Linked DNA regions of Homo sapiens: all the other regions are linked to region 3. Evidence: fine-mapped expression QTL. A gene starts in region 3. Each other region holds a variant in brackets. All regions are shown on one strand. Distances are from middle to middle.

Region 1 (8,167 bases), 43 kb before region 3:
CCTGCATGACAACAAAGAAAGCCATTTCCAATTCAGTCTGTAAGAGAAAAGGAAACAAACAACTTCAGCAAATATTTACCGGATACTACATTAGTTTGTGAGGGCTGCCAAACAGAATACCACAGACCAGATGGCTTAAACAACAGAAAATTATTTTCTCACAGTTCCGGAGGCTGGAAGTCTGAGATCTAGGTTTTGGCAGGGATGGTTTCTTCTGAGATCTCTCTCTCTTTGGCTTGCAGATGGCAGTCTTCTTTCTGTTTTCCCATGGTCTTCCTTCTGTGTATGTCTGTCCTAATCTCTAATTATAAGGACACAACTCATACTGGATTAGTGCCCACTCTACTAGCCTCATTTTAACTTAATTATTTGTGTAAAGGCCCTATCTCCAAACTCAGTCATATTCTGAGGTATTGGGGGGTTAAGGACCTCAACACATGAATTTGGGGGACACAATTCAGCCTATAACAAATACACATGAGGTGTCAGGCACTGTGTGCAAACTGACTAGCACTGAAAATCAAAGGAAGTTCTTAATTGTTTCTTTTTTTTCTACAGAAACACAAATCTGAAAAGAAATGAAGAACCATCTTTGCCTTAGGATGTGGCAAATGGAGCTTTGGAACTGATTCATATTCAAAAGAAGGATCTCCTGCCCTAGCAACACAGCAAGACCTCATTTCTACAAAATAGAAAAAAAATAGCCAGGTGTGGTGGTGAGTGCCTGTAGTCCCAGCTACTCGGGAGGCTGAGATGGGAGGATCGCTTGAGCCTACGAGATCAAGGCTGCGGTGACCCATGATTATGCCATTACACTCCAGCCTGGGCAACAGTGTGAGACCTTGTCTCAAAAAAAGAGAAGGTGCTGTCTGCCTGTTGTGAAAGAGACCTTCCATAGATAGTTTATCCAATGAACACTGGTGCTCATGCACATGTGTGTGTAGTGGCGTCTCCAGGTTGGTTAACAGGGTCTCTGCCTCACGACCAGTCCATTACTTAGTGATGTGGTCACATTTCTGTTGGTTCTTTCAGACACAGCCCCAGGGCCTCATTCTGCCAGCCAAAGTCAGGCTCTGGTTTGCCGCCTCCAACAGTCCCACTCTGTGAGATCCTGGTTAATTTGGTTTGTACTTGGCAAAAAAAAAAAAAAAAAAAAAAAAAAAAAAACCTACAAAAAAGTGCCAAGAATGTCTCCTTTATTTAGGAAATACAATATACTTTCTTAGTGAAAATGAGTTCTCTTCTAGTTTGCTATTCAGAAGGGACATAATGGTTTTGCATACTCATAGCTTCTCTTTCTAGTCTTTCTGGAAATCTAAGATGCTAAATGTTCTTGGCCCTCAACTGAGTCCTTTCTATCTTTAGGCACCATTCAATGTCCATAGCTTTTTCATCGGACAACTCTCATTTTACATCCTCTTAGTGTATTACTATAATTTTTAATTCTATACAAAGGATCTCACTCATTTCTCAACTATCCATTGTCCCAACAATTATTTTTACTTGAATAAAGAATATAACATTTTCCTTTGATCAAGCATATCAGAATATCATGGTGTGTTTAAGTGTTAAGACACTGAGGACAGCACCACTCAGGAAAAAGTGAGGTGTCTATGGAGCCAGCCTTGCAGAGTTAATCTGCTCTTAACTAGTGGTGGCCATAGACTAAAGTCTCCATGCACAAGGCAAGCCAAGCTCTACTTCTGAAGTCTGATACCTGAGCTCTCCATAGCTAGAAGATTCCATGAAACAGAAACAAGCCACTGACTTGCCCATAGTAGGTGGTTCTGTATAAATGAGAACAGGAACAGAATTCAGGTGACATGATACCAGAATTGAGAACTAGACAAGCAGGGAGGGTTGATGCATTAGTCCATTCTCATGCTACTATAAAGAACTGACCAAGGCTGAGCAATTTCTAAAGGAAAGAGGTTTAATTGACTCACAGTTCTGCATTGCTGGGGAGGCCTCAAGAAACTTAAAATCATTGCGGAAAGGGAAGCAAAACACGTCCTTCTTCACATAATGGCAGGAAGAAGTGCTGAGCAAAAGGGAAAAAGCCCCCTATGAAACCATCAGATATCCTGAGAACTCACTCACTATCATGAGAACAGCATGGAGGTAACCACCCCAATGATTCAATTACCTCCCACCAGGTCCCTCCTACTATGATTTAAGATGAGATTTGGGTGGGGACACAGCCAAACCATATCAGATGTTAACCCATCCAAGCACAGAGTACAGGAAATACCACTCTGGAATATGGAAATCATTGAACTAAGCAGTGGAAGCTAGTACATGGAAACATGAGTTGTTTAGGCAACTCAGATACAATGTCATGAGGAAAGCAAAGGCAGGGAGAGCTGTGGCTGGCACAGAAGACATTGGGAAGACAGAAGGTTTCATAGGATTAGTTTGGCCCTGTTGAAAAGTTGTGGAGATCCAGGGAGAGATGGCTGGAGAAGGAAACTTAAACGTTGAAAAGAAAAAAGAAGAAAGCTAGACTAGAGTAATGTAAGGCCCTAAAGGATGAAAAGGGAGACTAAGAAGTGATCACAAGTTTCTCGATCAAGGAAAGGGCTGTCAGCCCAGGATTTCCCAATGTGCCTGGGAGCAATGTCTTCCAAGATAAAGATTTCACCTGCAGAACTAGTCTTCAGTGTCCCAAAGGACCTATTCTCAAATAACTCAACAATATCACTTCCATTCTGCCCTCTGTGTATCTGCAGCTAAGATTTCTCCACACTGTTTCCATCCTCAGGTTTTTCCTACCAATTCAACTTGCTAACAGAGTTAGCAAGTTGACTAAGAATTATCAGTTATTTCTTATGTCTCATTTCTTCTTCCTATCACCCCTGTTCATTTTCACAGTAACAGGTTTTGTACTTTTATCTGAGTCTTTTTTTAAAAAAAAAATCCTCTCTCAAGCTTCTCTACTTTTAGTCTTCTAAATCAAATTAATGAATTGTCTGCTATCCCAGGCCCTCTGACACCTGATCCCTGAATAGAAGTGTTGTTCTTGTATCTTACACAATGATTCACTGCAGAGATATCTCTCTGAGCCTGGGATTTCATGACACTGAAAACACAGAACAAGCTTTATCAATGGCAGCCATATTTCATCTACACATGGAAGCTGTTCACCTACCTCAGGGGAAGGTTTCAGAAACAGATGGTCTGCTTTGGAGACTATATACACTCAGAATTTCTTATTTGGAATTACATTTTACATGAATAAAAAATATAGCAAATCATCTAAAGCTCTAAAAATGTATGCAGAGACCTCTATAAATACAAGACATGTTGTTTGCAGCACAATTTATTATCTGGCCATAGTATTTGGGTACATTATCAGGTACCGATTTAACACCATGTAACCTCTCTTGACACAGAGCAACCCAAAAAGAAAACTTTAAAATGTGCAACAGCAATAAATATCAAGCTTTGTCATCTAAAATGTATAAATATAAAATATCAGTCATTTCTGGAAACATCTTAAGAAAATCCGGCAACCACATGTCCATGAGTAGGTGTCTGATGTTGACGGTGCTTACATTCAGAACATATCACCTCAGATCCAACACAATTATTTTTATGT[C/A]TTTTACCAACACATGTTTGCATATCTAGGAAAGAAAAAATTGGTTTTACCATATGTTTGATTTCACCATAATGTTTACCATATGATTTTCTTTAGGGAGGAAGTATAGATTTCCTAATTTTAATTTGTTCCTGATTTTTAAAATATTTCCAATCAGAACAAATACAATCACATTTATTCATTTTCAACAACAACAAAAATATTTACAGGGGTTGCCAAATAATTTTCATTTTAAGTAAATTCTAACGTCAATATAATGTTCTCTGATGTTATAGCCACAGAACCTCCAAGAAAATTAGGAAAAAAAAAGGCGTAGTCAAATGTTTCTTTTGGACTATGCAAAGGTAATCAAGAAGTATGATCATAGTTTCCATCAATTGCTATGAAAAAACTAATTTGGCCATATCAAGCAGAAAGAATTCATGCAACATTTTAAATGTCATTTTCTATGATAATTGTTTACTTATTTGGACTCTGAAGAAAACTTTTAAATATCATACATATACATAAGCGGAAAGGTAACTTTGTGCACCATTAATTCTGCTACAGAAATACTGATGTTTCCTTGTAAATACAATTATTTTGAGAATAAATCAGAAATTAAGTATACAGATAGATTAATTTTCTGAGATAAAACTCCAAACTAAGCAGTACAGTATTTTATCTTATATTAGACTGCTACTATTTATTTAAAAACAGATTGGGGGGGCAGTGAACAAGAAATACCTGGAAAAATAACTAATATGATGTACTCACACTGAACAGCCTGGGCTCCTTGGTGTGTGGATGAAAGCCCTTTTTTTTACAAGCAGAAACCTCAAGCATGCCAGCATTGGTGAGCCTGAAGATGCCAGTGCTAAATTTCAGAGCAAAAACAAGATAGAAAAATTAAGGATCATTTGGGCATTCCAGATGCTTTATTTGAACAGCACACACATACATATTCCTCAGATGGGATTGAGAAATCACAAACTAGGAATTCCATAGTGATTTTTTTTTTAAACCAATGACTGGTCCAGAGGAGAGAAACCCAGGAGGAGGCAATGCTGCTGCTAAGAGCCTGCAGGACCGTTAAGGGGACAAGGCAAATAAGCTATCGTGTGTGACCCCAGAGGAAAGGCCAAAGCCCCACTAGAGAGTCTCATGAGAGGAAATTACAAGTGGCAGATATTTCGAATCTTCTAATTATGTTAATACAGATTATAGCAATAGCAAATATGTATTGAGTACCTGCTGTGGTACCAGGCACTATGCTGAGCACTGTACATAAACTATTATCTAATTTCATCTTTACATCCATCCCCGATGGGCAGGTATCAGGGATGAAGAGGCAGAGACCCACAGTGGTCAAGTATCCTGCCTAACACACCACTTGAGGGGTGGAGCCAGGATTTCAATATGTTTTTTTGATTCCCATGCTCATAACTACTCTACAATAATCATTGTTCCCCAAAGCTAGAAAGGTTTTTTTCTCAGCTAAGGCAAGAACATTTCTTATGGTAGAACATAATACAGTAGAAATAAGTCCTAAAAAGGCTAACTGGGATAGCATCTTTCTTAAATGTTATTCACTTCAAAGTCACGCTAACTGAAGAAAGAAAATCAGTAATTCTGCCACTGAAAGGACCTTAAACTGCAGAGCTATAGGTCTATGGCAGCTGACTACTACCCATCTCTTTTTCCCGAGGGCGTTGTGTGCTTGCCAATCCAAGTACCACAACCTGGTGTCTGGACACACAGGAACCCAGCAGCCCTGGACAAAGCCTTCTTTGGTCTCCCCTGAAGAGTTACACTTACTCTTTATGCTTTGGTGAGCAAACAATGGCAATGGCCTCTGGCAACATGAGTTGATAGGAACAGTGAGTGTGAAGATCAACGCTGGATAAAAATGCAGTTTGAGTGGGATGTGTCTATAAATAGAAAATAAGATAATCTTACTAGGATAGCTGTCTTAGCCAAGGCCATAGGCTATTTTAATAGAAAACTCTGTTTTTTTTTAGTTTTTACCATCATTAATCAAATAAGGATTTTTAAAAAGGTTTTGCTGACATAATCCTTCCCTTTATGCCAACTATTTGCTATTTTGGAATAACTACAATTCTGAGAAGAGGCTCCTAGAAGTGTTAGTGTACTTTCTTCTTTTTGGGAAAGAAAGAGCTGGAAATTAATTTGCTAGGGGCTTTAAATAGATTCTCATATAATTATCACAACTCATTTATGAGATACTTATTTTATTATCTCAATTTTACATACAAGGATCCCAAAACTAAGGGAGGTTACATAATGTGCCTGTGGTCACACGGCTGGTAAGGAGCAGAGCTGTGATTGGAAACCCTGGGCACAAGATACATATATACAACATTATGAACATTAAAAGAAAGTTTTCACTAAATAGACCACATGCTGCTGTGTATCCTTTTGTGGATTGTCATTTCCTATAAATGGGAGAATGGGAGACTCCAAGTTGTTGAAGGTATTTGGGACTAATCTCGCATAGCAACTAAATACATGGGGAGAAAAAAAGGGGGATTATAAATTACAAGAAATCTGCCAAGTTTCTGGCTATATACAAATGTGTTTATGCATGGCCAATCGGAGGTTCATATTTGAATATAAAAAATAAATGCACACCTAGTTATTTTAGAAATTCATATTAAACCCTAATTACTCTTAGAAAAAAGAATGTGACTATTTTAATCATGAAACAAAGATTCTTGGCACCACTCTCTAGGTCCTGACTCCATTACTCACTAGCTATATGACGCTGAAGATTTCTTAACCTTCTCTTGCCCATTTCATCATCTGTAAAATTGGGATAATATTTTCTGCATGGGATTGTTATGAAGATCAAATAGGACAGTCCATTAAAATTCCTGGAACAGTGCTTAGCGCATAGAAATAAAAGTCATTAGCTGTTGTTATTGCTAGTGTTATATTAAATGTATTTATTAACTAAAAGGCACAGAGCCATAGTAGTAGCTAAATGCCTTTACACAAAACTATATTCTATTAAAGAAATGTAAGATTTTAAAACTATTTTTAGGCCAGGCATACCGGCTCATGCCTGTAATCCCAACACTTTGGGTGGCCAAGGTGAGAGGATCAGTTGAGCCCAAGAGTTCAAGACCAGCCTGGACAATATAGGTAGACTCCATCTCTCCAAAACAAACAAAAAAAAAGTTTTTTTAATTAGCTAGGCATGGTGGCATGTGCCTGTAGTCTCAACTACTTGAGGGGGCTGAGGTGAGAGGAGCGCTTGAGCCAGGGAGGTTGAGGCTGCAGTGAGCTGTGATCACTCTACTGCACTCCAGCCTGGACAACAGAGCAAGATCCTGTCTTGAAAAAAAAAAAGGCAAGACAACGTTTTTTTTCGGCTTTAATAGAATGAAGGTAAAATCAGATGATGATTTACAGAAAGGTACATGTTCTGCAAGGAAAAAATAACACTTGGCATATAAAAACTTAGATCAACAAAGGAATGGAAATTATCCTAACTTTTAAAATGCAAATCTTCAGTAGGGGGTATGAGTGGGAGTATCTGACAGCCTGTTATCTTACAAGGAATACCTTCTCTTTGTAAAATAGAGCCGTCTATGTCTTCGTGAGAAATTAAAAATTGTTCAAAGAAACCACAGTGCTGTGGAGGCAGCAAGCAGGTTATTAAACAGACAAATCACTCTGCTTGTCAAGTTATTTGAACACAGAATGCACACCACATGACCTGAGTCCTTCATTTCTACCAAAAGGAATTATGTCCATTCCAATTAGGACAGTTTTCCCATGGGAGAATGAGGCTCCCATTCCCTCACTCTACAGAAATGAAAATGATGATGATGATGATAACAATGGCAGCAGATGCCATTTATTGCAACTGTATAATGTGAACTAATCACTTTTCATGAGTCATATCATTGAATTCTCACAGCAACAAGATAAGTACTATTATAATCCCCATTTTGCAGATGAGGAAACTGAGGTAAGCAGGAAAGTGAGTAACTTGCTGATGCTCATAAAACTAGTTAAACCAAAATGTCTAAAGTCAAATACATGTCTGTCTGACTATGTTTCAGACCTTTTATTCCTATGACTAATTTGTATTTGAAAAAAGCCAGCTCTGGAATTTGTTGCTATTATTATACTTAATAAAAACCGTCATAAAAAGTCATTACAATCACTTAGGTTTAGAAATGTAACATTTTTGTATTTTCATCCAACCACAATAATTTGATACGGTGAAATGAGTTTAACAAAAAGTCCTAAAATTCAAGAATTATGCTAAACTTATTAAACAACTTACCTTCATAATTGCATGCATTATGTCCACGGTAGGTCATAAGGGGAAAATTTTTGTTTCTAATTTGGAAAATGTTTTGTTAGATAAACTAACATTGACTTGTCAGTGTAAATGCATAATTTAATGGACTGTCATTCTTGCTAGAATTTGTTTTGCTTTAAAATGCATTCTTGTTACAGAAATCATGTTACGCTAAATAAGGCATTCTTTTTATAGAAATCATGTTAAGCTAAATAATATAGCAATTTCCAGGCAAAGTGTAATGCATATTACTC
Region 2 (8,187 bases), 39 kb after region 3:
CCATAAAGATTCCTTAGATTCTAAACAATAATTACTTTAATTAAAAATCTGTAATGTTTACTTATGTTATAGAAACAGCTCTTGATACATAGCTCCCCTAATCTTAAAGTTATTAAGATTAGAAATACCTTTTTTGGAAAACTGAAAAAGAGATGAGAATGGGAGGCGTTTACTATTTGGAAACCCATAAAGTACTATTTAATACAACAAAATGGTTTACATACTAATTAACTGGGAAGTCTTAACACTAACTTTCTAAACTGAAGGTAGATTTTGTCAAAACTCTGCTAACATTTCCCATCAAACATAAAATAAAATTCAAAGTCCTAACCATGGTCTACGAGACCCAATTTTCCTTGGTCCCATTTGCTTCCCAAATTTCCCGCCACTCCCCTTGCTCATGCAGCCATGCTGACCTTCCTGCTATTCCTAGAACACATCAAATCGAGCTCTTGTCTCAAAGGGCTTGACAGTTGGATTCCCTTTGTCTGGAAGTTTCTTCCTCCTGAAAGTTACCTGGCTCATTCCTTCACTTAAGACAGATCATGGATCTCTGCTTGAATCTCACCTTCAAGAGATCTAAAAGAGTGGCTTTGTCATTCTTTATGTATTCTCTTACTGTGCTTTACTGAAGTATTATAATTTTTAAAAATGTCGGGTTTGTTAGATGAAAGTGGATTTGAGAGTCCTATGTGTTATGATTTTTATGATTCCCAGTTTGCAGGTTGCCGAAGAGAAAGGTATAATGATAGCTTCCCTGACCTAAATGTCGGTTTAATAAACATGTGTCTATCTTGTAGAAAATAATATAGTAGGTTATGTGAGAGTTACAAGAATGTAAGAATAAAACATTTGTTTTCTCCAAAGAATTTACTGCAGTCATAAGGCCAGACACAAATAATTCTCCCAATGAAATCCCTTGTGGGAAATTCTTGATGTTAGTTGATTTCTAATTTGCCACAACTCAACTTTCCTGCCTTTAATGGTCAAATTTATTTTAATTGGACTTTATAGTAATAACCAAAAACTTACTTGTTACACTGAAATAATACAACTAATCCTGGAACCCTAAAGTCCACACCCTTTTTTAGCTAATTGGTGCCACTAAAGTAAACAATTTTGAAAAATGAAAAAGATGCTAATTGCCTTGATGCACCATCAGACCACATGAATCTTCAGAATCAAGCAAGCATTTCTGCAAAGGCAACGTTTTCTCCCAACATGCTTAAGATTAGGCGTGATGAGGATTTGAAAGGGGATTTTAGCACTATGGTTTTGTGGCTTTACCAACAGTTGACCTTTGGCAGGTATCAAGATCATATTATGCTTAAAACAAGGTGGGATGAGGTCTTTCAGCAACCTCAGGACTTCCCGTTTCTATATATGTGAATGAGAATTTCTTCCGCCACAGAATATTCAAGACACAAGGAATTGGAGGTAAGAGTTGATTTTAGGAAAAGGAGGTGAAGTAGATGGCAGGCAAGAGAAGAAGCTTTTATAGAGAAGCCTTCCTTGAGAAAAGTAAATGAAGATGAGGTCAAGAAACAGTGGCTTCAGAGCTGCACGCTAATGGAAGTCAGCCCCTACCTGGGAAGTAGTGGTAATTTCTGGGACATAAAATCAGAAAGTCATCATACATTTGAATGAAGGACCAGAGAGGAAAAAAATAATTGTCTTCAGTATTAGTATGATCCAAAATGGAGTAAAAACTATTTGCAAATATATTATTGAAACTGCAAATCACAGTAGACCTATAAAATTTCCTGTAAGCAAGAATTGGCAAGTAACAATTCATAACACTATGTCTATTATTACCACATTACAATGTGTGAAATGTTACTGATATTTTTTTCCTGTCATTATTTTTCCAAGTATGTGAAACATTTATAGTTGTTTTTATAGGTTCACTTACATGCTAGTCCTCTAATCCAAATTCTTTAACTGAATTTAAGGGGATTTTAGTAATTTTGTTAACTCTGCAGATGCTTGGGAAGGTTTGTCGTATAACATGATACAGAATGTGATGAATGCTATTATGTACCTCTTGTGAGTATCTACTGGGTTTTCATCATCTCTGTATCCCTAGAGCCTAGCACAGTTCTCTTGGAAAGTATTGAGATCTCAAAGTCTGTTGAATTGAATTGAAGAAAATAATCAAGGACTATAGGCACTCCTGGAACTTTTGTGGGTAGAGTTTATTATAAATTAGTGCATGGAGTTGCATAGGAGTGGAGAGAGGCTTAATGGGTTAAAACACTGGTTCTGGAGTTAGATAGACCAGAGTATAAATTCTAGTTATGCTACTCACTAGCTATAAAGAGCTCTGAGCCTGTTTTCTCATCTGTAAAGAGGGATAATATTATTTTTGTTCTAAGATTGCTGTAAGGGTTAAATGAGATGCTGCTAAGGTGCTTAGCATTACAGATGGTATATAAAAAGAGTTCAGTATATAGTAGGTATTATTACTGTGAAACTTTTTACTGTTATTTTTTATTTTTCCCAAAGGAGACTTACATTTAGAGATTTAGTGCTAAAATACCTGTTTAGGTCCATTAAATGTTTAGAGACATTGGCTGCTGAGAGTTCAAATCCTGGGCCCTTCCCCAGCCAAACTGTCTTCTACGTTAAGAATAAGACAGTGTAGAAAAGTCTTGGGATGTCAAAAGGTAAAATGAGGCACGGTTAAGCTCAAAAGAATTTATTTGAGCAAATACCGATTCAGGAATTGGACAGCTGTGGTTTGCAGGCTTTTTGGAGGGAATGCAAGGAGAAGGCTTTTATAGGGTGAAAAAGGGAGTAAAGCACAGAAAATATTTGATTGGTTGCAGTTATAGAGTTGCTTTATTTGGTCGATTCTGCTGGAAAGTCTCTATGTAAGTTAGGCTTCTGATTAGTTAACTTGGTTTCATTTTTCTTTAATATAGGGATTTATAAGAAATAGCTGAAGTTAAGTTTTGCTTATGTTTGCAAATTGAGCAAGGTTAAGGTCACTTATGAGGTCTAAATGGATTTGTCTGGCCCAGAGATTCTTCAAGCCTGGTCTCCATTATAACTTACTTTAACGGAAATATATGCCAGTTCCTGTTGCTGGTGTATTGGAGCAGGCTGGAGCTGGCTTGAGTCAGCTTGAACTGGTTTGTGAAAGCCAATTTTGCTCAACTCTGAGTTCGTTGCTCTCTCTTTTGTAGGTTGAAACTAGCCAGGTGGGAGTGGTTACACCAATGAAATGGAAGAAGACCACAAAGGTTTTCTTTCTTTCTTTTTTTTTCTCTTACTCCCTCCTTTTGTAGAACTGGATGTTACCTAGTTATGGGCACCCTACTGCCTTCTCTCTTCTCTGTGAATACCTCTGTGGTGGTCTGAGGTAGTAGGGGAATATCAGGGCTTCTGATTTGCCATTTTCTAGCAGCCAGAACCCACTCTTCCTCCACCCTTACTCCTCGCTGGAGGTGAAGGATCTTCTGCTTTCCCCTGGTCCTCATGACCTCAGAGTTTCTGATGTCCTGGAGTCAGAAGTGTGGCAATGGGGTTTTTTTAGCTTCCTGGCAAGGAACATAACTTCATGTTCTCAAACAGACCTTTCAGGATAAAGAGTAGAAAACATAGATCAATATGTGCCCTGCTTCTATTTCCCCTTCTGCTATCGTTCATGAGGAACTATGACTTCTCTACACGTTCCAGCCAGTGGTGGGACCTTCCTCCATGTTACACAGAGACGGAGTGGGCCTAGAACAGCCTTTAAAAAATTATTGCGACTTTTTTATTTGTCTGAAAGAAGACATTTCCTAAGGAATTTATAAAATACAGTATGTGAAGAGTGAGTTATCAGAAACAAAGGCTTGGGATTAATTGTAGAAATCAAATTAAACCCAATAGGTTTTTATTATCATTCTCCAAGGTTTCTTAACTTGAAGAGAAAGAAAAACATCTTCCTTCCTTTTCTGAGAAGACATTTCGTGAATCACAAGGCTCTTTACCGGAATCATTTTGCTCCAAAACCTACA[A/C]ATCCTTCTCAGAAGTTTTCATGGAACATTTTAAGTGAGGGGAGCTTGTAGCATGGAGATGGCTAATAAACAGTGAACCAATTCCTCTGAGCCACAGGCAAAGTTCTACACAGTCTTTCCTTAGATTGGGAATTACAGAAGCTCCATTATACTTTAGGGAAAACAACACTAAAAAGTGGGGGTAATTTGGGGGAAGCTTTGCTTTTAAAGACATCCATAGTGGTACAAGTTGTTCAGATGTTTCTACACTATTAAAATAACAACAAATATTTTTTCAGCTGTGATATCTATTGTACTTAGAGCAGTGCAAAATATTATTAAGTAATACATACAGTTAATCATCAACATGCTGATTATTTTAGTTAATCATCAACATACCGGATGCGTCATATTCTACCCATGGACGCTTCTTAAATTTTAGTGCCTGGGCAAGTAAGATGGAAGTGAACAGAGTGAAACCTTACCTCCAAATTCTTGACTCCTTTTAAAGACAAACATGTGGGAAGGCAAAAGGACACAAAAAATTTTTCCTAATGTTCCATTATTCCAGAGTTTTGAATGCTCCTTAGCTAATGTGAGTTTAAAAGCTGCAATGTTACATTAAATTTTTACTTCCATTATGGGGGGCTTGTTTCTTTTACCTTTGCAGAGATTCTCAACCCTCACTGTGCATCAGAATCACCAGGGAAATTTAAAGAGCACTAATGCCCCAATCCTATTCTTACAGATTCTTATTTAACTGGTCAATAGTGGGGCCTGGGTCGTGTTTTAAACATTAAGTTGGTGCAAACATGATTGCAATATTTAGCCAAGGTTGAGAACCACTGAGGCGAAATATTGTCCTGGTCCTTACATGATCGATTACCTTCTAAACATCAACCCCTTTCCTAGCCTCACTTCCCAGCCAGATCGGATGAATCCATGTGTCAACCAACAAATGACTTTTATCCATGTTCTGGGTGCTTGACCTTATGGAAGCCTAACTTCAGGAGGGTTACAGTCTAGTTAAGGAGACTACATTTAACCCACTAGCTCATTTAAGGCCAATGAGCTGCTTGAGGTTCTGTATATTTCCTGCTGCAGGTAGGAAAGATGAAAGAGATTTCTTGGAGATGAACCATGAGATGGGCCTTGAAGAATAGATAGCACAATTTAAAAGATAAGGATGGCAAGCCAGTAGCCCAAACATAGAAGTGAGGAAATTGACCTGACCAGAGATGGGAGAGCTTGCAGAACAGCAGTGGTTTATACACAGTTGGCCCACTGAGGGGCACTTTAAAAACCAGGTAAAAGTCATAGATACCTCACTTTCTAGGAACTTGGGCACATTACACCCCATTTCAATACCAATTAGTGCAATTTAAAAAGATAAAACAAGATTATGTGAGAGAGAGAAAGTTCCTGGGCTGGGAGGCTGAGTGGTCAGGGAAGTCCTCTCTGAGGAGGTGATTCATGGGCTGATACTTGATCTGGCCTAGCAGGAAGCCCGCCATATAGGTCACATGCAAGTGTAAAGGCCAGAAGACAGAAATGAACCTGGAATGCCCCAGAAATCACCACAAAGTTGTGAGCAAAAGGGAGATTGATAGATGAGGCTGAAGAGAAAAGTTAGTCAGTGGGCCCTATCAATCCTGTGTCTTAGCTTTTCAGGTTGTCCAGAGCACGGCTCTAGGGAGCGCTGTTCACAGGTTAGCCCATGGGAACTCATGCACCCTGCTGGTAAATACTCCTTCTCTTCAATCTCCTCCTCGCCTACTAGTCTGTTTTCCTCTGTGCCTTCACTGAAATCTGGCTTTTCCTGGGCATTATGACACCTTCTCTTATGGTGGCTGCTGATTCAGTCTACTTCTTGGTCACCGTTGTTTTTTGACCATGGTTCAATTTCTTACTTGAAATCTCTGCTTATGGCCCTTTCTCTACATTCTCCCTTCTGTCCACTGTATTCCAGGGCCCACTTCCACCTCCCTGGAACACAAGTTCCCCTTTCTTTCTGTCCCCCGGGGTCATCCTCAGTGACCTCAACATCCATAAGCTTCATTCTCCCTTCTTGACCTGTGTTTCTACTCCAAATCAGATACCCAACAAGGCCACCCTTGACTTCTCATCCCTAGACAGAGTTTATCTGTAACATCTCTCTGATAACTTCTAAACTGGTTACTTTTCTAATAGACCACATGTACGAACTGTGCTCTGATCCTTCTCTGTGTTTCTATTTGCTTGTCTCTCTCTTTTTGCAAGTTCATTTGTCTTTATCTGGCTTACATATGATGCCCATTAAGACTGAATTTAATGGTAAACCACTCTCCTCTCATTTCTCTTGCCTGACAGACATGTTTCCTAATCCTTGCTCTTGCCCTCTTCACTTTCTGTACTCTTCCCTCATCTAGGTTTGCTGAAGAAAATCACAAACTCACATGGCAGGCTCAGTCAACTCTATCTTCTTACTGTGTTTCTACAACCTGGTTTTCAAAGCCATTTTATATTTTTATTCATTTCATGTAGACAGTTTTAATTACGATGGTCCAAAATCTTCCCCATCATGCTCAAAAGTCTCATCTACCCTTGTCTCAATCACATCTCCTGTCATTAATCCATTCATCTTTTTAAATGTCAATGCTATTTATTTAGTTATTGGATTAGTCTGTTCTCATGCTGCTAATAAAGATATACCCAAGACTGGGTAATTTATAAAGGAAGAAGTTTAATTGACTCACAATTCCTCATGGCTGAGAAGGCCTCACAATCTGGCAAAAGGCAAATGAGGAGCAAAGTCAATCATGGCAGCTGGCAAAAGAGAGCTTGTGTAGGGGAACTCCCCTGTATAAAACTATCAGATCTAGTGAGACTTATTCACTATCATGAGAACAGCATGGGAAAGACCCACCCCTATGATTCAATTACTTCCCACTGGGTCCCTCCCATGACATGTGGGAATTATAGGAGCTACAATTCAAGATGAGATTTGGGTGGAGACACAGCCAAACCATATTAGTTATCTAGATGTATCTATTTATTTATGACAAATATATAGTAGTATAATGAATGAAGATCAAACCTCTGACTTTCTGGCAAAAATTTCAGTCAGTCTAAACTTCTTTCCATCCATGTAGCTCTCTTTTCTCCCTTGCTTTGGCCTTAGAGCCAGAATTTTCCTTCTATGTAGGAGACTAATGTTTCCATCTTAATGCTCTCTATCCTATCATCTCTTCACTCTCTTTGATCAATTATCTACCCTCTCATAACCACTCCTGTCCATCTTCATTGGCTCCTTATGCTTTAATAATTATAAGAGTAGCTAACATTAATTGAGGGTTTACTGTGACTCAGATCTGAGCTAAGTGCTTCATCTGCACAGTTACATTTAATTCTTTCTGAAACTTATAAAGAAGGCATGATTATCAAAAGCAGAAGGAAACTTAGCATGAAGAGTCTAGGTAACTTGTCCAAATAACATAGCTGTTAAGTCGCAGAGTTGAGATTGGAACCCAGAGAGTTTGTTTCCAGAGCCTGGATTTGTAACCACTTGATGACACCACTTTGCCTACAAACGTGTGGAACGTTGGCTGGACACTGCTACCCCCCTCTTTGAAGTCTCTAGCTTTCCCTAACAGCTTTTTCACTGCCAAACTGACTACAATTCCTCTCCAATTGCATCCTCTAATTCTTCATAGACAATGTGCTCAGGCCTCTGTATTCTTCCTTCAGCCCCATCACTGTATGAAAATTGGCCTCTGCATGGCTGCTAATGATCACATTCAATGATCTTTGTCTTCCTTCTTGAAACTTTCACTTCTTTGCCTTTGAGTCTTAACGTTTTTCTGTTTCTTCTGCAGACTCTCTGATGACACTTCTTATCTCTTGGTGGATATTGCTGATTCTAGGTCAGGTTGGAGAAGGAGTCTGGATGTATAACCAGTATAACCAGCAAGTCAGTGCCACAAGTGGACAGATCAATATCCCGAATACAGACTGTAGCTTAATTTTGGACACAAATATCAAATGCGAAGTCTTGTAGCCAGAAGACATTTTGAAGGCTGATTTTTAAGACTAAAGTGATTGGAGATAGAATGTACGCATTCTGCAGTCATTCCCCTTGATTTGACTCTTGGCCATGCCAGTTGTGAACTATGTCACTTTGGGCAAGGAAAACAATTTCCCTTAGTTTCATCTGTGCAAAACAGGT
Region 3 (8,187 bases):
AACAAAAAAAAAGGAGTCATAACATCCTTAATATTCAAGACAATGCACCCATTTCCAAAAGAGTACCTTGAAAGGTTAACTACAGCAAATCAAGACATAAGAATTACTGGTGTTTATATCAAGGGACTTCTTTTAATAAACACAAGTTACTAAGCAACCACCAGTCAAATTAATGTCTCTAAGCCAACCACATCAATGGAAAAAAATAACACAGATTTAATTTAAAAGTTAGAGCATCAAACAATATGTGTTTTGAAGACTCAGCAGTATGCCAAATGTTAAATTGGCCTGTCCACTTGACATGCAGAGATGGAAGATTGTACTAGACGTTAATCTGATTTGCTTAGAAATGCAAATAATTTCTGACAAAAGCCACATCCAGATGTAGCTACATCCAGATTATTCCTGAGTTGAACATTCTGATGTCAACTCAGGATTTCTGAATGTACATTCACACGTTCAATTGGACAGTTCACATGTTCAGATAGGTGGAATAAGCAAGTCAACAGGTACCAATAGTATTTTTTGTTGGTTTTAGTTTTGTTTTAGAGTTTTGTTTTTGTTTTGTTTTGATTTTGTTACTGTTTCTTCAATCGAGGATGTTGGCCTTCTTAGTTGATTATATGAACTGGGATTCAATTTGATGAAATGTTTGGTGATTCATATAAAGTTATGATTTAAAAAATAGCAGAAGAGGTGATGTAGTAAAAAAGGATGAGTTCATGTCCTCTGTAGGGACACGGATGAAGCTGGAAACCATCATTCTCAGCAAACTATCGCAAGGGCAAAAAACCAAACACCGCATGTTCTCACTCATAGGTGGGAATTGAACAATAAGAACACTTGGACACAGGAAGGGGAACATCACACACTCGGGCCTGTCGTGGGGTGGGGGGAGGGGGGAGAGATAGCATTACGAGATATACCTAATGTAAATGACGAGTTAATGGGTGCAGCACACCAACATGGCACATGTATACATATGTAACAAACCTGCAAGTTGTGCACATGTACCCTAGAAGTTAAAGTACAATAATAATAAAAAGACATTCTAAAATTTGTCATTTATTTAGCAAATATTTATCAAAGAGCTGCTATGCATCAGCCCTAAGGAATGGAAATCTGGCTCTAATATCTTCAGGGATAACCATGAGTCATTTCCTGTAGTTTCAGTTGAAGCCATCTATAAATCTTTCATAAGGTCAAGAAAAAGAAGATAGTAGCAGACAGAATCACAAATCCAGTAGATTAATTAAAATGTCCCTAATTTGTAAATGTACCCACCAGGAAAGCACCTAGCACTTCCTGGACGGAATCTACATTATTTTCTCTCACATTCCTTCTACTTCTCATGTTTTGGGCAAGAATCATCAGTTTTCTTTTCTTGTAAAATGCAATCTCATTTCTTGGATTGTAGCTGTAAATTCTTACAGCTGGGAAGGGTCCTAAAGGAAGGAAATGATCAAACGGTGTTAATTAAGTCCTATGTGCTGAAAGTAAGAAGAGAGAACTATTACTAACAATTCTTTATAACTATTTTTATCAGTCCTTCTTAGGAATCAACCCCAAAGACACTCTCTCCTCCAGAAGCAAATCTCTCTATTGAGGACATCCTCAGGAAACTGGTTCCTCACTACTCCCTCCAAGCCTCCCACAAACCGTAAGAATCCTATGAAACAGGGCAAGAGTACCAAGAAACAGGCCTTGAAGGTTGAGATAGAGGTAAAGGACTTAGGTTATCTGCCTTATAATTTAAATTTTGGTGCTTACTTTATAGGTGAGGATAAGAAAACAAGTTTCTTCTTGAAATTCCCAAGAACCAGTTGCTACATAAATTACAGCCAACGTATACGCAAAAGCAGATTCTTAGTGGCAATTTGCTGTATCTGTGTCTGAACAGAAAACAATCAGCCAATTCATTTTGCAGGTAGATTCCAATAACATTTTATGCCTTTGAATGGAGAAGCTCTCATGGTGCAAATGGTAAACAAAAAGAGCCTACTGCTCAGCGACACATTAACTTGTATTAAAAATAAAGATATGTATAGTGTAGCTACACAATGCCCACTACAATCCAGTGGCAGAGTATATTTTTGAAGTGCAATGTAGCATCCATCCTGAAAACACAAAATTTCCAATGGAAACAAGGTCGGGATAAAAACAAAACACGGTGGCTTAATTTCTGTGTAAAACAACCGTCAAAACCTACCCTCAAAAAAATTGACACGAACAATCAAACATTCAGGTATAATTTATCTGCTGGAACAAATCTACGTTATTGACCTTGACAGGGCCTTAAATCATGAGACCATAAACAAGCATCCTAGTGATATCTATTATGTCTTCGGAAATAGCTTAAAATCCAGGACTTCATGTTATTGTCAGTAATGAGCAAGATGTTTGGAAAGCAGTGTGCTCACTGGGGCTTACTTTGAAAGCTGTCTTTTTTACTTACTACCGAACACTGATTTCCAGGAAGCAAGCCACCCCACCCCACTTCCCAGGCACTTGATTTTTTTTTTCAAACCTCTAGATTGGGTTCCGTTTCCTGAATTACTTATTCCTTACATAAATTTTCTTTTAAACTTCAGCAATTATGGCACCTTAGGCTCTGGGGGTATCAGCAGCGTGGGTTGTTTTAGAGAAAGTTCTGAAAAAAATATGTTTTGGAGACATTCCATTTCTTTGTGCATCTCACTGGGGGCTTTCAGCGAAAGCTTTAAGTTATTCAGGTGAGGGGCAATGTCTTAGTCGCTCATAAAGGGCATAAAAGTAACATCATCTGGAAAGGCATGGCACCTGCTCGGCCGGGGTAAAGGTCCGTTTTTCTAACCCTCGCCCCTCCCTCCTCCACACCGCGCCGCTAGAGACAGTGCAGTGGTCTCTCCCAAGGTCGACATCATCTCCAAGGCTGCAACCCAGGGCTGAACCAAAAAAACAGGCGCACCCACGTATAGGTCACGGCCAGAGTCCCGCCCTGCCACCAGCAGCCAGGTCTTCCTGCCTCCCTATCAAGGTGAAACTAACCCAGAGGGCCCAGCGGAGGGGCGCATACAGGCGGCGCCGATGGAGGCGGCCGATTGCATGACTGGCAGGAAGGAAGCGATCAGCCGCCAAAGTGCATTTTTTCCTCCCCTAGAGCCAGCCCGGGACCGGACGCTGCCAGCGGAAGGGCCGGCGCGCGCCAGGCCACGAGGCAGACGCACCCGCCGTGCGCACTTCCCCGTCCGGTGCGCGCTCTCACTCACGCGCGCGCGCCGCTACTCACTAGCAACCCTTGGTGTCCGCAGCCCGTGTGGGACGGCGACTGCGACGGCTGCCCCCGTGGCTGCCGTGTGGCCTTGGCATCCGTCCGGCTGCTGCAACCCGGGCCGCGGTGGCTTTTGCTGGAAGGCGTTGCAGCGGGGTGATACCGGCACCCGGCGACGAGGCGTCCGCTCGTTTGCCTCGGCCGTGCCTCCTCCCCCTTCTCCTCTGCCGACAGATGGAGCTTTGCTGGTTCCAGTCGCGCGGGCTCCGTGCGTCGTTCTCCTCCTCGCTGTCGGACACCCCAGCGCAGGGGACGAACAGCGTCCTCGCAAGCCCACGCGCAGGCCGGCCGACCCCGAACCTGCAGCAACCGTCCCTGCTGCCGCTGCTGCAGGAAAATAAATTGTCACTGCGATGGTCCCGGCCTCCCCTGCCCCGGCCCCTGGGTGCCGCCTCCGCCTCTGCCTCCGCCCCCTCCTCTGTGGCGGCGGCGGCGGCTTCCCGCATTCTGCAGAAAAAGCTCGCAGGTGGAAGGAAGCAGGGCCCCTGCGGATGGCCTAGAGCCCGAGTGAAGCGGTTGGGTGCGACTTTCGCATCTGAAACCCTGCACGTCTTCTCCCCAGACCGGAACCACCTAAACTCCCTTTTGCTCCACCATCAATTTCACCGAGATGGACAGGAGTGGTGCCTTTTAAGACTGCACAGTACACAAGCCTTGATGCAGCTGACCGTTAAACTGTCACTGGAGTCTGGGGAAGGATAGGGTTTTGGTGAAAATCCCACTTATACTTCATGTTAGGATTCCCTTTTTGATATTTATCCACAACTGGCTACGCCCACTATTAAGCATCTTAGCCCTTCCCCCTACCCCCAATTTGTGTGTACTTGGAAAATAAGAAGTATTAGAATATCTCCTGGATGTTATGTTACTATCACGTGTGGTGTTCTTACTACAGTTCTGGCACTGTGTCAGGCAGTCGGTACACAAAATCTTAGTCCATCTGCCACAACCCTGTATATAAAAGGGACTCATTTTTTGTTTTTGTTTTTGTTTTTTCCATGAACGAGAGACAGAGAAGTAAAATAATTTATCCCAGGTTACTCACCTAGAAAGCAGTAGAAGCTGAAATTTAAACTCTGATCCAACACTGAAAGCTGTTTCTATTGGCTTCACAGGTTCTATTAACTGATAAACATTTTATGGAGACTGCTGCTGCTGGATGAAATAGAGTCGCTTTTCTTGAGCTTGGTTGGGAGCTTACTTCCAAGTGAGAGAAATGGCTGCAGAGTGGGGTGGGGAAACACTGGCTTTTCTTAGTTAGCCTTTCCTCTGGAAACCAAAATTCTAGCCCTGGCTCAGCCACCAACTGAGTTATTTGGTCTCAAGCATTTCACCTTCTTAAGCCTCATCTCCCTGGATTCTTTTTTTTTTTTTAAATGAAGAGTTTGATTGTTGGAGGCAGCCTGCAGCCTTGATTTTTAAGAAGCAACAGTGTTGTTTTGCTTAGTTTTAAGTTGGTTCCAAATGTTGAAGTTAGGAAATTTCACAGAAATTCAGACTTTTCACATTTTCTGTAAAATCGTAACATCAGACATTTGGTCCATGGCGAGTTCTAGCAACCATCAGCTGAAGCTGAATAGCAGGTGTCGCCTTTAGACTGTGAAGACACTCTTCAGTTTTCCACAGTCCCCACCACTCCCATACACCCCCACCTCACTGACATTTGAGAATATGGTAGGCATTTGAGTTTGCAGTATTGAACCAGATAATCTCATGACCTACTGGACAATTTAAAATTCAGTGGTAATTAAGAAGGTTAGCCAGATTCCTAAAAAGCATTATGAAACAAAAAATTCCACGTACGTATTTAGAGTGGTCATTGATCATGGTCTTGCTATCTAGCATCCAAATTCTCATAAAAGCCAAAATGGCCCAATACCCATCGTCCCCTGCTCCCCAGCGGCTAGAGTACCATTTTGTGACCCAACATCAGCCTCAGAGACTCCTGTACAGTTATTTGAATCTGGATTATGTGTTTCAAGAAGAAACATTTTAGAAATGTCTCCATTATCTGTGAAGTGGGTTTTGTGTTCAGGGACAGTAGTGCCAGAGGTAACACTGCGGCAATGTCAGTGGTGTCCTAAGTGAGCTATTTGAATGGTGTGATGACCCACCTGTTGTAATTTCAGCTGCTAAGCTTCCCTTCCTGTGTAAGGAGACTTATTTGCCAAACTTCCTGTCTCTTTGGTATGCTACTTAACGACTTTCCAATATATTTCTCTTCTGATTCAGTTAGCCAGAAATGATTTCAGCGTTGTGACCAAGAACTCTGATATAGCAACTTTAGGTGTGATTTATTTCCCTTTTATTAATTGAGTTAATGAAGAGCAAGCACCAGTGTATTTATACAACTTTTATCTTAGAGAATTTTTAAGTGACCTATAGTTTTACTTGCATTTTTAAAGATTCAATCTCAATAGTAATTTAAAATCCAGATTTCTTTTTGCTCCAGAACTTTTGTTTCTCTTATTTTTGAGACAATTTTACCCTACTAAACCTTGAATGAAGATTTCAAATCTATATGCAAATACACATAAGCACTATTATTTTGCAGATGAGAAAATGAGGGCTCAAGTTACAGAATACATGAAGGCAGAGCAGTGAGGAAATCCTGGGCTATTTTCTGATATGGTAGAACAGGGTTTCGGACCTCCTGAATTCAGCAAGGGTATAATTTGCAAGTAATTACTCCCTTGAAAATCAGAGTTGACCACACTTGTAGTGAAATTCATTCCTGATAGTGCCTACTGGGTTCCACTCCAGTACTGGAAGCTGGACTGGAGACAGTGACCATGTTCCTTCACGGATCCTCAGTAGTGTGCACAGGGGAAGCCTGCTTTCTGAGGGAGCTGAGCTTTCTGTGCTTGTATCTAGATCTTCACAGTGGCACGACATAACTTCTCAGAGAGCAGCATGCCACCATTCAGTGATTTTAGGGAGGAAATCAAGTGTCACTGTAGTGTCTGCTGAAGTGCGATGCCTGCTTCTTAGGGAAGCCAATAACTCACTGGAAGCAGGTCTTCATACCCACAGGTGGATTGAAACTAGGGTTTACTCAGCCAACAGGGACTGGCCCAGTGCCTGGAAGGTCTAACAGGTGACCATCCTGTTGTTTTATGGCAACATGTGGGATTTCCCGTCCCTTACATTTTTAAACGGATGTCGCAGAGCAGAACATCCAAAGTGTAAGTGGTGACCTGGACAACGATGTGCAGTTTTCCATACATCTCATGAAATCTGGCCACAAAGACAAGCGCAACTTTCCCTTTTTTCCTCACTTTGGCCAGCAGTTCCTCTGAGAACTCACGTCTTTCAACGAATCTTGATACATTTCCTTCTGCAACGCCCTTTAGTATCTCCATCACAGTTGCTAACATATTTGACTGGATATGGATGATCATGTTTAAATTAGTAAACTTTATGCTTTCTGGATTCATGATGTGAGAAAAAATGGACATAGCTTTTGCCACCTGGTTCTGATGTCACAGGAAACAGGATGCTCTCCTGGAGAGAACTCCTTTGATTAGGGCTTCTTTTCTTAATGTAGTACAGACTTAGAAAGATTCAGAGCTATTCATTTTGTGGCCAATTGCAAAATCAAGAACATAGGTATCCTGGTGAACTTTCCATCTGGGTTTTTCATCTCTGTCAATATTTCCAAAGCACTTATATATTTGCTTTTGATAAATAACATAACCATCAAAATAGTAAATTGTGTGGAGTCTGAGAACCGTTGTAAATATTCATCTTTCCTGAGCTCCATTGCAGATTCCTCAAGATTCGAGTCGTAACACAGTCTTATGAAAAGTGGTCCAAACTTAAATTCCGCCAAAGTGACATTTTTGTTTTCTGTATGGTACTTGCAAATGATGTTTTTAGCCAGTTCCACATGGTCCCAGGACTCACGCAAATGAAGTAGGGTTCTCAACTTCCCCTTCAAGATGAGCTTGTTCTAGTTCAATTTCTCTTCCAAGTTTCTAAAATAGATTTATTTGGTGCCAGGAAGATTATATTCAACAGCCACCTTCTTATGCTGAAATTCTTTTAATTTCATAATATTATCTGTAAGTAGATATCTTTTTGCTCCAAGAGGACAGTGGCAGCAGGTGGAGCCGGAGCCTCTCATCCCGGGATACACTGAAATCTGCAGCGCTGGCAGAAGAGCTCATCTGGAGGACCAAAATGCCGCAGCCATACTGTCTCAGACTATACCAACTCCAGACTTTTTTAAAAGATAGGATTTTTTTTCTCTTACCAGTAATATTAACAAATGTTGCTTATCAATAAACATTTCTTCATTTCTGGTGAGGGTCCAATGAAATCAGCCCTCTTATCTGGTGGTGTGATTCTGTTACAGTGCTGGAAAGGAATTCGTCAGTGTGTCAAGGAACATTCTAAAATGTACTCTTCCCATCTCCTACAGTAATTCCACTTCTAAGAAGCAATTTATCCTAAGGAAATCTGAAATAAAGAATAAGATTCCTCCACTGAGATATTTATCACCAACTTTGGGTATTAAAATTATGTTTATGACGGACTTTTAATGATGTTGAAATTGCTTATGATACAATGTTAAGCAAACGACACAAAATTGCATGCGTATATATCTCAAGTAGGTAAATCTTAAATAGATAAGAATACAGGAGGAAATCCAGAAGAAATTATTTAAATGGCCTCCTAGAGATTGGTTATGGGCAATTATGGTTGACTTCTTTATACTATAATTTTAATTTTTCTATAAAGGACATGCTTTCCTTTTATTTTGGAAGAAAAAATATTTAGTAATTAAAACATAAACAGTCCTGGCGTGGTGGCTTATGCCTGTAATCCTAGCCCTTTGGGTGGCTGAGGTGGGTGGATCACGTGAGCCCAGGAAT

Evidence for each region. PIP is the estimated chance that this variant, and not a neighbour inherited with it, causes the effect.
Region 1: its variant is fine-mapped to the expression of STAMBPL1 in whole blood (TOPMed, PIP above 0.99).
Region 2: its variant is fine-mapped to the expression of STAMBPL1 in whole blood (INTERVAL, PIP above 0.99).

The regions. Positions count from the first base shown.
Region 1 is chr10:88,918,624-88,926,790 of GRCh38, reverse strand. STAMBPL1 (STAM binding protein like 1) reads right to left here. Exons shown (of 11, transcript NM_020799.4): 9 at 5,396-5,508; 10 at 4,355-4,454; 11 at 3,304-3,623. The coding sequence ends at 3,567. Among named protein-coding and RNA genes, the nearest start is that of ACTA2-AS1, 10 kb to the left of the region's middle. The variant C/A (reference allele first, on the strand shown) is at 3,599.
Region 2 is chr10:88,836,461-88,844,647 of GRCh38, reverse strand. All of the region lies in intron 1 of ANKRD22 (ankyrin repeat domain 22), which reads left to right. Among named protein-coding and RNA genes, the nearest start is that of ANKRD22, 11 kb to the left of the region's middle. The variant A/C (reference allele first, on the strand shown) is at 4,005.
Region 3 is chr10:88,875,720-88,883,906 of GRCh38, reverse strand. STAMBPL1 (STAM binding protein like 1) reads right to left here and starts at 3,662. Exons shown (of 11, transcript NM_020799.4): 1 at 3,269-3,662. LOC124902551 reads left to right here and starts at 3,243. Exons shown (of 1, transcript XM_047426134.1): 1 at 3,243-4,173. The coding sequence starts at 3,485. The coding sequence ends at 4,012. It also overlaps the pseudogene PTCD2P2. RefSeq lists enhancers at 734-1,933, 2,954-3,063 and a silencer at 3,644-3,773.